Linked DNA regions of Homo sapiens. The protein of the gene in region 2 interacts with the protein of the main gene of each other region in a biochemical or structural test. Each region holds a gene or a part of one and is shown on either strand. Other genes may lie near its edges.

Region 1 (6,507 bases), on a different chromosome or scaffold from region 2:
CAGGGTGAAGCAAGCTTCATGAAACAGGAAGGGAGATGAGAATTCCAATGCGAAACCACGATCAGAACACAGGAGAAAATGGGAAGGCAGGACACAGGCAGCCGTGGGATGCAGTTTTCTGGGCCCAGCCTGTCTCAGGACTCAGAAGCTTTACCTGTAGCAGACTCCTCCTATAGATTCATGCCATTATGCAGATACCTCTATTCCAGACTCGCTCATTCAGGGTTACAAAGTCTCATTTTCTTAGCATCTAGCAGCTGGCTTTAGTGTTTCACTTTACATTGAATGATATTCACTGACATCTTTATGGGTTGAAGTTATTTACCAGGTGAACTTATTTCAATGTAATAATGACTCTGTGTGTGTTTCTATGTGTGTACTTTTTGTAGTACTTCAAATACTGAACTGTTGCTTAACCAGAATATTTATTCCCTGCTATCGAACTTGTAATGAAAACCTTCTAAAAAATTTAAACTTGAGGTAAATTGAAAGGACAGTTGTTCTTTCTTGGGTAACATAAGACATTTATTACTTTATACTAATTTTTTCATTCATAAAAAGGACAAAGCACAGTCCTATACTACTCCATTGAAAAAATGATAAAAAATAACTAAAAAATCAATTCAATATTTATCAGTATCAAATAAAACTACTATCACCTTTCCTGAAATACAAAGAAACAACAGATGTATCTATACCTATATAAAGTTTAATTCAGAATCTTGCGTCTTAAAGCAGATGATTATTAGTTAGCTTGACAACAGTTTAAAACTGATGGTCCCAGTTAAATCTGTACAACTGTATGAGAAAATGAAAAGCTTGAGTTATCAGTGTACGAGAGATTTTAAACTACTTTATCTCTGTCAGAAATTCAAAACTAAACAACCTCCAAAGTCTGTTTTCCTCTTACCTTTCAGAACCATTTCATGCAAAATCTAACCAGTTTTGCTCGTTATTATCATATATTAGAAAATAAAAGGCAAGCATGCATTTGGCAAAAGATTTAGTTGTTGATTATATAAAAATGCCCAACATGGGTCACATTGCAAAAGTAAAACCCCAAAGTGTAACAATGAAAACACAAACATTTGTACAGAAGGTATACAGGGTATTCGTTTCCCTAAAGTATGAAGACATTTTGTTTCTTTTTCAAATACTTAAATATTTTATGAAATCTGGCAATGATCTTAAGACTGTTGACATACTTCCACTGGGAAATCATCCATTTCACTTATTTTTAAAAGTTTCATTTTATACCAGAGTTAAATGTAAACTAATGAAATATTTATTGATATTTTCATAATGAAGACTCTAAACATTTACACATCGATATATAGTACAAAAATTATACAAATTAAAGAAAGGGGGTAAAGTCGGTAAAGTAGTAATAGATCTATTTTGCTTCCTGTAAATATTTTTTACGAACCTATACGGTGTCCTTTCTAAAAAGATAAACTCTAATTAGCTAGCAAGTTTGTGCTAATAAAATAGGATTATACCTCTTGAAGCATCCAACACTGCACTATTTCACAAGCCAGCTAATTCTTTATTACTCGATTTCTTTTACATCCACACTCAAACACATTTCCATGCACACCATGGAGAATGAAGAAATGTGCATCTTCCTTTTCACAACTTATAAAAACCCAAAGCACCAACACTTGGGAGACACCATCGGAAAGACATATTATTTGCCTCCTCCTGGCCTTCCAGTTTTGCATACTCTTCAAAGTACCATTAGCAGTATATTGATTTGGTATTTTTAGCCAGTTTTCAGTATTGCATTGAAGTGGGAAATGAGCTTAAAACTAATTATTATTATTATTATTATTGTTATTTTTACAAAATGGAATACGGTAGCTTTTTCAACCTACAGGTGACTTTTTGATCTGACATCTGCAATAAAGAAACGTAATACTTAGGAATGAAGCAGAAAAACCAACATACTAGTAATTGTGATATTCACTTAACTGTCACTTATTCCTAACCATGTAAAGACTGTCACATCTCAATAAAAAAGGAAGCACTCTACTTTTCAAAATTTGTCACTCCACATATGAACAAATATAGCAATATTATGATACTCTAGATAAGAGCTGTGATTTTTGAGATTTGAAATTGATAAGAAAAGCATAAAATAACTTCAGAGTAGAATATAAAAGTAAAAAAAAATCTATATGGTATGTTAACTTTACTATTAAAAAACTGATTCTGAAAATCAAATATTTAGAAAATTATTTCCTTTGAAAATAAGAATACTGATAGTAAGTTCTAGAATTTGGTTTTCAATAGTCAAAATCTTTCAACTCATGATTTGATAATGGGATTTCTGACAAAATATTTGTTACACTCTATTGTCTTTTCAAGAAAACTCAAGATGTCATGAATGATAGGGGCCATTCAATAATATGCAGTACCCAAAACAGTGAGGAAAGTACAAGAGACTGTATTACTCTTACATTTACCACATACAACCAACATTTCAATCTCTATTATATTTCACAACTTGTTATTAAATTTAAAGCACCTGTATATGGTGATTTGACTTTCACTCTACAGCCTATAGTATTGAATTGAACACTGTAACTTGTCCCATTGGGTTAAATCATGCAACTGTCACAGAATCAGGTTAAGTGGTTTATAAGGCATATTGGAACGAGTTAAAAATCATTTATATCCATTTAAAAGTTTATTCTTTTGGATGAAGGGGTTCCCGAATGCCTCAGTCATCATGTGTGTTGTAAATCAGTTGAATAGTTTGTTAAAGTATAATTTATTTGGCTTAGGATGGAGCCGCAGAAATTGGAAGGAATTGTGGTCATCCCAGGGTTGAAGGGTGTCTTCTGAGCTGGGATGGGAACAGCAGCTGTCACAACACATTCAGAATTCCAAGTAGACAAGGATGCCAAAGGCAGGCAGCAGTAAGCCGAGAAGACTTGGGGATAGGGTGGGTGCACCTGCAAGGTAAACCAAAAGTGTGCATATTATTTCATTGATACATGTCACTATTGCTCATTTAGTCTGCTTCAGCTAAGGCGAGATTGCATAGCCCTGGAAAACAAATGGGTCCTTTCACAAAACAGAATCTCTTATTCTTACATGATTTAAGAAAAACAAAAGCTTTTGATCAAAGATTTTCTGTGTGAGACCATGTGAACTGTTTACACAACATGATTAATCATTTAAAATAATATGATCACAAATGTGTATGCTGTCCCTATGATCCAGCAGTCCCAAATTCCTACCAGAAGGCAAAATGTCAAGAAACATATATACATGCATTAAAAAAGTAAGTTTTAAAAATAAGATAAAGTTGTGGGGTGGGGGGAGTGGGGAGGGATAGCATTAGGAGATATACCTAATGCTAAATGACGAGTTAATGGGTGCAGCACACCAACATGGCACTTGTATACATATGTAACAAACCTGCACATTGTGCACATGTACCCTAAAACTTAAAGTATAATAATAATAAAATGTAAAAAAAGAGATACAGTAAAAATACTAATAATTTTTCCTGAAACAATGACAACATAGGTATGCTAGGTAAATCTTGCATAATTTCACATCCCAATGGTTTTAAGACATTTATACATTTATACAGAATGACTTAAGTAATGTATTTCTGATATTAAATAATCTCATTCAATTTTTATCTAAAGAACAATTGCCCTGAGATATTACACTGTGAATTAAAAATTGAAATGATGTATTATAATATGCTATGGACTTAATTTACGTCTTGGGTGACACTTAGAAGGGCTACTCCTGTAGTCAAGTAAGTTTATGGGTCCGTGTCCTGCCGACATGAGAATTTTTGAGAAACTATTGTAAAGTAGGACCAAAAAGTCATACTCTTTCTTCCCAATGTCCACAACTATTAGGCACTATCTTCTTTTTAAATAAATTAATTATTATTTTTTAAGATACAGGGTCTTGTTCTATTGCTCAGGCTGGAGTGCAGTGGTTCAGTCATAGCTGACTGCAGCCTCAAACTCCTGGGCCCATGTGATCCTCCTGCCTCAGTCTCCCAAAGTGCTGGGATTACAGGCATAAGCCACCATGCCTGGCTGGCACTATCTTCAATGAACATGCTGCTAGAATGAGTGAAGACCTAAAAAATTTAGTCAATGGCTTACTAATATAACAGTTTTCATTAATTTTTGGAAGTTTACTCTCTAAATTTGAAACCACCAAATAAATTATTATTATCTATCACATTAAAAGTGACCATAAACAGCTCATTCTTTGGCATGGTCCTTTTATATTCAGGGAGATTTAGTGCATTTCTCCTGAATCTCTGGTCATTAAAAGCACATTCATGTTCCCTATAAGGTGGAAGATAATAGTGTCTGTCTGCTTGCTTGTCTTCAACATTGCCCTGCCTGGGGCTTTTGGAGCTGCCTGGAAACATAAGAGGGAAAGCTTTATCGGATACAGATAAAGTAGTTCTTAGAAATGAGCAGGAAAGTGAGGGTCAAAAGGTGAGGGCAGATAACAAGGGGAATATAAACAGCCCTCAAGTAGCAGAGCTCCTAAGGACACTATCAATAACAATAGTAAACTTATCATTACTTTGAGAGATGCTACTTACTGCCCTACAGCCAGCTACAAGACTATGTTGGCTCATTATGTAGATTATGACATGACTACAACAACCTACAATGGTAGGTCTTTTACCCTAATTTTATATATTTTGTAACTGAGTCAGGTAAAATGAGTTGCTCAAGTCCAATAGTCACTAGAGGGCAGAGAAGGGATTAGAATTCAAATTTGTCCAGCTGCAAAGGCCATGCACTTTTGACCTCTCTGCCGTGTTCTTGCAGGTAGCTTTAGCAAGGGACTGGTTTTAGAAATGCAGAAGGAAACTGCGCTCTGCACTTAATGTATCAAGGCAAGGGCACAGAAGGAAAATAATAAATGTCATATGGAAAAAAGCTAACACATAAACTGTTTCAAAGAGATCTTTGTATTCTTGTAATTTTTTTTATCTTCTACTTTTCTACAAATTTTTTAAAATATGCCACAGACCACACATTATTTTATTCTGATAAGATGCCCAATAATAAACCTCAATCACACAGTAAAACCTTTAAACGTCAATGTTTGACCCAGTGTAAATGATCCATCCTGAAGCCTTTTTTTTTTTATTATACTTTAAGTTTTAGGGTACATGTGCACATTGTGCAGGTTAGTTACATATGTATACATGTGCCATGCTGGTGCGCTGCACCCACTAACTCGTCATCTAGCATTAGGTATATCTCCCAATGCTATCCCTCCCCCCTCCCCCACCCCACCACAGTCCCCAGAGTGTGATATTCCCCTTCCTGTGTCCATGTGATCTCATTGTTCAATTCCCACCTATGAGTGAGAATATGCGGTGTTTGGTTTTTTGTTCTTGTGATAGGAATTGGAAATCATCATTCTGAAGCCTTTTTTGTCTGAGGATGACTGCAGGGTCTCCACAATGCTCTGTCTTTTGACCACAAATTACATCTATCATGGGGACATGTTTATGTACTTGGCTGAATATGTGGGTTGGCAAAGTACAAACTGTGGCTGCTCGAAAGAAATTTAGTGAATTGTGGATGCCATCTTGATGTTTTGGTACTAGTATGAAAACCAAATACAATTTCATAATTTGTGGCTTTGACATCAGGATATTTGAAATAAACTCTCCATGTTTACGTGTGTTATATTTAATTTCTCTAATGGCTCAAGCTTATGTAATTTTGGTCTTCATCTTTACTTCTATCCCACATTCCAAACAGAAATTAGAGACCGAATTGAAGTACTATCTAATGTCATTTTAAATGACATATATTCTTGAGGAGTTTTTCAATATATATTGGTTTTGAATCTAACAACATATATATCAGAATACTGCTATCAATCATAATTCTGGTACTTATGTGTTATATAGTAAACACATATTTTGCTTTTCACATAGCTGATGAATGTTAAACCTGAACAAATCATTGATCTTGTGAATAATTTTTCTCTATCAGAAGAAATGTAAAACCAATTTGGAGTACTATATCTCTTCCATGGGAATTCTTGATTTTTTTTTAAATCTAAACTTTGATTTCATACTTCCTTCAGGGAGAATTCCCGCTATATGGAGAGTGATGCTGAAAACAGACATTTCAATTAAAAGTTGAGCAGTACTGCAGGCTTTCTGATAAGTAGAAAACTGCTCTACTTGGTTTTTAATACAAACTTCCTTTCTGATTCTTCAATCTGGACACTGTGATGCAGTCTTTGTTTCTACTGCTTGCCTATTGCTGACGATGCCATAACATTTAGAATTTTCTCTTTGTGGTGTCACATTTTGTGACCACAACTGCTAATATCTCTATATTATGAACAACTTCAAGACAGAGATGATATCCAAATTATGTTTTAGCTGTGTTGACTAATACCAAGCCTAGTGCATAGAAAGTACTCAACCTATAATGTTAAATGATTGAGTTATGCCTCCATTGTAGGCCCTGAATTTTTTCT
Region 2 (7,030 bases):
GGTTAGGAGGCAGGAAGAGTTGGCAAGGCAAAGGAATGTCCTCTCTGCCTATCCTTCAAACTTGACACCTCTATACTTCATGAGAGGGCTTTCTTGACTTCTACACTTCTGGTGGGCCTACCCCTTCTGGCAACGCCAACTCTCCTTTTCGCTTGTCATATACAATTTAACTCAATTTTATATATAGTTAATAGTTCTCTGATATTTCACATACGGGACTCTTTCTTGGTCTTATATGACCAGAATGTTATTTTTTAATGTTTATTTTAAGTTCAGGGGTACATGTGCAGGTTTGTTACACAGGTCAACTTGTGTCATGGGGGTTTGTTGTATAGACTATTTCATCACCCAGGTATTAAGGCTCATACCCATTAGTCCATTAGTTATTTTTCCTGATTCTCTCCCTCCTGCCATCCTCCACCCTCTGAAAGGCCCCAGTGTGTGTTGTTCCCCTCTATGTCTCCATGTGTTCTCATCATTTAGCTCCCACTTATAAGTGAGAACATGTGGTATTTGGTTTTCTGTTCCTGTGTAAGTTTGCTTAGGATAATGGATGGAAGGATGTTTGGTGTGGTTTCGTTTTGAAGCCCACTCAGCCATGTGTTTCTGATTGCTTTCAAGCTGCCATTCATAGGTTTCCATTTAAGTTCATTTTTATTTAGAAACAGTGAAGATAAAATGCAGATTTGCTGACACTGTTCTGTCACTTACGGGTAAACTATATGGGCTTAAAATGGATATAATTTAAGCATAATTCATATTTTTTTAAAAAATGAATTGATTCATCCACTATGTATATGAAGAACTTGAGATTTTTGCTAGCAAGGATGTGTGTGGACCACTCTACTTAGACTTTTGCTGTATCTTCTCTGTGACCAGTGTCATTTTAAAGGATATTCCCTATTTGGGGTCACAAAACAGATAAAATTTATCTGGCTCATTCATGACATAGCTGCAGTTACTGGTGTCATGGGTTGAATGGTGTCCCCCCACAAAGATATATTAAAGCTCTAACCGCCTGATAACTCAGAGTGTGATTTTATTTGCATAAAAGTTTGTTACAGATGTAATCAGTTAAGATGAGATCAACTGGAGGAGGAGGATAACTGGTATGCTTATAAGAGGAGGAAAATTTGGATACAGACACAGACACAGAGGGAAACAGCCAAGTGAAGACTGAGACTGGAATTGTGCTGCCACAAGCCACGCAATGCATGGGGCTACCAGGAGATGAAAGAGGCAAGGAAGAATCTTCTAGAGGCTTCTGGAAGGGCATGGGCCTACAGACATCAGAACTATGAGACAATAAACTTCTGTTGTTCTAACCCACCCAGTTTGTATTACTTTGTTTTGCAGTCCTAGGAGATGAATACACCTACATTTTAGTGACATTTCCATACCTTAGATGAATAAAATCATCTTTTTAAAAATCATACCTCAGTTTGTACCAAATAATTTCTTTGTGAACGGATGTGTTTTAAGAAGCCAAATATGTTGACAGTTCCTTCGTGTTGAATCTGCTGCAACATACTGTCTAGCACAATATATGTGCCTGTTCTTCCAACTCCAGCACTGAAGAGAAGACCAAGAAATAAATATTTCAATGTTAAGCATAAAATAAATTTGAAAAATAGATCACTACTGGTTGTCATGTTGATTAAAATAACTTCCTTCTTCAAGCGAGTGAGCCACACAATACATTTGGCAATTCAATATTGTAAACAGTTTAGTAATTAAGCGTAATGCTTTACACAACAAATTTAGAAGTACCCTTTCTAATGTTTTGTCATGTGTCTAATTGCAAAACAACCTCACTATATCTGTTGGAGATTTTAAAACTTTCAAAAACCATATTTATTATTCATTGTATATTGTACAATGAAAATATTATGTATCAGAGTGTGGCAAATAGACATTTAATCTGACAAAAGTGAAAGCTTTAACTTCACCAAATTCTGAAAAGAAAAAGTCCCTAGGTCTATGTTTCCAGGTAGACATGTTTGTAAAGATTTCTGCGTTAATGGGAAAAAGAATTTGATAAAGCTTTCTGCTGAAAATATCATTTCAGTGAGATTGTGAGGAATAAAGCATGACTTCAGTTATTTCTAAAGGGCCATTATCTATCGACTTCTTCAAAGCCTCTAGCAGAGGGACAGAATTCACGGACAGGGATTCTTTTCAAATGTTCCGACAAGTAGGAAGTGCTAGAGTGGAAAATTAGCACCTGCTCTGCACAATAGCCTGGTCCTTCTCCGTTTGCTAGGAAACAATCCCTGACCTTCAGCACTATTTTTCTTGCATCTTCCTGTTTTCCTCAGTTTATAATCAGGCTAACAGATTAAAAAGCCTCAAGATGGGTCTCTCAAATTTAACTCCTGAGATGGTAATTAGAATGTGTTAGATAAGCTATATATCAAAGGCAAACACTTGATTCTCTAAAAACACACTGCTTTGATAACAATACTTCACATAGAAACAAATTTGATTTTTGTGATCTAAGGCTTGGCACACAGTCAGCACTCAATAAATATTAACTGCTATTATTATTTTAACTGAAAACATTAAATAAGGATTTTCAACATTTTTCCTCTTTCATTGAAACATCATTATTTCTATTTATCAACCTAGTCTTGGAAATTAAAAAATCTTGGCAACAATGAATTGACAATACATTCAATGTAATGTATTAAAACTCAAGAAAATGAAAAAGGGATTCTGGTCCCAAAATGTTTAAAAACAACTTAAATATATTTTGCCAAATTTCTCACAATCTGTGTGCTTTGGCTTCTGTGATACAAGCCTGGCATAATAATTCTAAAACAGAATTTTAACTCCTAGGGACAGGGGTTGTAGCTCAAGCATTTTTATCCCATGGTATTATATGTTGAGGTAAATATTTGTTTAACAACAAAAACATTGTTCCACCTGCCTCAAATAGTTAATAAGCTGAAATGCAGTTGAACAATCAAATAAAATAATCAACATCAAAAAATATGTGGTGCTTAGAAATATTCAGCAATCCAATTCTGAGTCTGGCATGTTCATTTCCTAGTGATCAATACTTATGAAAATGAACATATAATTTCATCACCCTCATTTCAAGAAATCATTCCCATTTGGGCAAAAGCTTTGTTCCATTGATTTCCTTTTTGCAAGTATAAGCAATTCTATGGGTTTAGAGGCACATCTCTGAGACTCACCTGCAGTGGACGACAACAGGCCCCACTGCATGGCGCTTGGCATAGGCTGCCTTTCTCACAAAGGTCAGCACTGGCAGGGAGTACTCTGGTACTCCCATGTCAGGCCACTGCGTGTAGTGATACTGTGTGACCACACGTCCACTGGGTCTTCCTTTCTGGGAGCCCTGGAAAAGTTCAGACAGTTAATAACAGTCAAACACACACACACACACACACACACACACACACACACACACACACACACACACACGGTTCTTCAACAGCAAGTCAGGAATCATAGCTTGATTTGATGTTGAGGGTCCATAATGAATGAAAGAAAGTAGAGTGTCATTTGTGATGGTTAATTTTGTGTCCACTTGGCTATACTATGGTGGCCCATTGTTTGGTCAACACTAATCACACAAAATGTTGCTGTAAAGGTATTTTGTTTAGATGTGATTAACATGTAAGTCAGCAGACTTTGAGTAAAGCAAATCATAGTCCATAATGTGGGTGAGCTCCATTCAACCACTTGAAGGCTGTAAGAACAAAGACTGATAGGATAGGTTACCTGAAGAATAAAGAATTCTTCTCAACAGTGCAACGTAAAGATCCTACCAGAATTTCTAGGCTGCCAGCCTGTCCTACAGGTTTAAGATTTGCTAATCCCCATGATCATGTGAGTCAATTCTTAAAAATGTAAACCTCTCTATCTCTCTATTCTGTTGGTTCTGTTTCTTTGAAGAACCTGAGTAATACGTTATTCTTCGTGTTTCCTTTCTTTTTCTTGTTTCACTCTCCACTCTTTTTAGTTGAATATTGGGATTGTGTCAGGGCCATCCTATGCAGTTGCCACACAAGGTAGGAATTTCTGTTCATGTATCACATTCACTTTAAACATCAGCAACAAAACCAGTCTGGCTCCAAAGCCACAACAGGCATCTAGAGACCTGAAAGAAACCTTTAGGACTGACGGCAGCTGTGATAAGAATTCTTTTTTTTTTTCTTTTCTTTTTTTTTTGACAGAGTCTCACTCTGTTGCCCAGGCTGGAGTGCAGTGGCATGATCTTAGCTCACTGCAACCTCTGCCTCCTGGGTACATGTGATTCCTGTGCTTCAGCCTCCCAAGTGTGCACCACCACACTCAGCAAATTTTTGCATTTTTAGTAGATATGGGGTTTCACCATGTTGGCCAGGCTAGTCTCGACCTCCTGACCTCAAGTAATTCACCCACCTTGGCCTCCCAATGTCCTGGGATTACAGGCATAAGCCATGCACCTGGCCTGGTTACAAGAATTTTTAATGCCTTTAGTTATATGCTTTTTACCCTTTCTTGGTTCTATCGCTTATTCACTTAAAAAATGACCAAATGCATTGTTCACTTGATTATGCCCATCATTTTGTTGACTCACCTTTTTTATTTTTGTGTTTCTTAGAGTAAAATTCCTCACAGTATAATAGGCAAGCACTTGCACACTCTTCTGAGTGACCAGAAAGTTCCCGTACTCCTCACTCCCATCGGCAGGCCAGTACTGATCACATTTTCTCTGCAAAAGAAAATGTAGATGTTACTTCTGTATTTCAAATGCTCCATGTAAAAGTCATTCCCTGAAATCAGTAAAGGTCTGAGATGGTGACAGGAATGGACTCCTTCACTCTTCTAAATGTTTTATTTTCTTTATAAGTGACTGAAATTAGTTGTGGAGGAGGCTAGGGATAGAATCTGAGAGCTGAACGAGACTGAGATGAGGTACCCTAAAATTTCCCCTTTCAGATAAGGCAAGTGAGTCAGAAGATTCAGGTTACAGAGCCAAGACTAAAATCCATGTCCTGTGAATTAAAATCGATTTCACTCTACATTGCTTTTCAATGAGTCCCATTTACTTCTCCCACAGTATGAAGAATGCGTTTAAAAGGCAGATAGCATGATTCATAATGAAACTTTTTGACTAACAGTATTAACAGTTTCCCTTTAGCTGTCATATTTACTAAAAAAGAATCCCAAATAACTCTCAAAACTTTGGCTCCTTCCTAATGCTGACTCTATTAAAACTAATTTAAAGTACCTCTAATTACTTTTTTGGGGGTGACATAACAGATTATCTACATACCCTTCCTTTCTCCACGAGGTTTGTTATCATGACAATAACTTCCACATTATGTTCCCATATCATTCTCCAGAAATCTTCAGCTGTGGATTTCAGTGGGCCTTGGGCAGCAATATAAGCTTTTGGTCTGTTGTAGCCCTGAAGAATTAAATGACAAATGTTTCCTACTAACTGATTTATATGTCATCTTTAACTGTACAATGCCTAAGTTTTTAAGGTCAGCATAATTTTTCGTAAAAGAAAACCATAAAAAATAAACTTGCAAAGTTGGAGAAATTTGATGGTACCAACTAAGATAGCTACTCTTGGTTAGAAAATACTCTTGGTTAGGAAGCAGAAGGATCCCTATCATTTTTGTAAAAAAAAAAAAAAAAAAAAAAAAAGAATAGCTCTCTTTGCTTTGACACAACTATAATTCTGTGCATTTGTATTCCAAGTGTATTTAATCCATTTGCGGTCTACTTGCTATGCTTAAAATCAAGTCTTTAATAGCACTGCTTTGAAATGTATTTTAGGCACTGGGCTCAGATGTCTACAACAGCTTAAAAAAGCATCTGGAGTGTAACCTCCTTACTCTACTTCAACGTGCTGAGAAGTGCTAATCATTATTAGCAATTCGTCACTGTGTCCCATTTTGTACAAGATGTTTTATGGGCATAATATGGATTGGCTGTTTTCCCACCCAAATCTCATCTTAAATTGTAGTTTCCATAATTCCTGTGTGTTGTGGGAGGAACCAGGTGGAAATAATGGAATCATGAGGGTGATTTCCCCCACGCTGTTCTCGTGAGAGTGAGTGAGTTCTCATGAGATCTGATGGTTATAAAAAGGGCTTTCCTCCTTACTGGGCACTCATTCTCTCTCCTGCCATTCTGTGAAGAGGTGCCTTTCACCATGACTGTAAGTTTCCCGAGACCTCCCTAGCCATGCAGAACTATGAGAAAATTAAACCTCTTTTCTTTATAAATTACCCAGTCTTGGGTATTCCTTCATAGCAGTGTCCTTCATAGACTAATACAGAACGTGAACCTTAATCTTTCATCTATGCAAAATGGAAGCATCAACCCTGATGTGGAGATGAGGAACCTAAAGCTCAGAGGAGTTAAGTGGCTTTCCAAAGTCCCACAGCTAGCCAGTGGCAGAGATGGGATTCAAAATCAGTTCTAACTCCAGATCTCATGTTCATTCTGACATGCATATTTCCTCCTCAGGAAGCATGAAACAGTTGCCTGTAACAAACCCACTTTATACTTATGTACTCATTTATTTGAATTCAGTATTCCACACAGTATTAACCTGAAGCCAGCTAGACTGAGAGGTGCATCTTAGGGAAGTAATTGAGTTCTGCTGACATTCAGGTGATCACAGTGAAAAACCAATTTAGTTAGTGAGCGGTCTACAGTCTCTGGAGAGTCCCAGTAAGTTCCACAAAGCTGGGTATCCTGAGGAATACCCAAAATTATAAAGGTTGATAACTGGATTAATAATCATGTTTGCCTTTTAATCAGTACTACTATGGAAATTTTTTGTTCATCAGCTAAATGCACATCCTTGTGCCAGGAGCTATGGGAAACTTAAAATAAGCCTTGGCCCTGCCCTTCACATTTTTTTTTTTTCTGAGACGGAGTCTCACTCTGTTGCCCAGGCTGGAGTGCAGAAGTGCGATCTCGGCTCACTGCAAACTCTGCCTCCCGGGTTCACGCCATTCTCCTGCCTCAGCCTCCCGAGTAGCTGGGACTACAG

The links.
Region 1: the proteins of PTPRZ1 (region 2) and CNTN1 are reported together in a solved structure, tested with the Homo sapiens proteins (one study listed by IntAct).

The regions. Positions count from the first base shown.
Region 1 is NC_000012.12:41,066,409-41,072,915, reverse strand, and holds the end of CNTN1 (contactin-1 isoform 1 precursor), read right to left. Parts: intron 2,958-6,507; coding exon 2,881-2,957; 3' UTR 501-2,880; downstream 1-500. UniProt on the Homo sapiens protein: Contactins mediate cell surface interactions during nervous system development.
Region 2 is NC_000007.14:122,037,150-122,044,179, reverse strand, and holds part of PTPRZ1 (receptor-type tyrosine-protein phosphatase zeta isoform 1 precursor), read right to left. Parts: intron 5,426-7,030; coding exon 5,291-5,425; intron 4,727-5,290; coding exon 4,592-4,726; intron 3,365-4,591; coding exon 3,201-3,364; intron 1,573-3,200; coding exon 1,437-1,572; intron 1-1,436. UniProt on the Homo sapiens protein: Protein tyrosine phosphatase that negatively regulates oligodendrocyte precursor proliferation in the embryonic spinal cord. Required for normal differentiation of the precursor cells into mature, fully myelinating oligodendrocytes.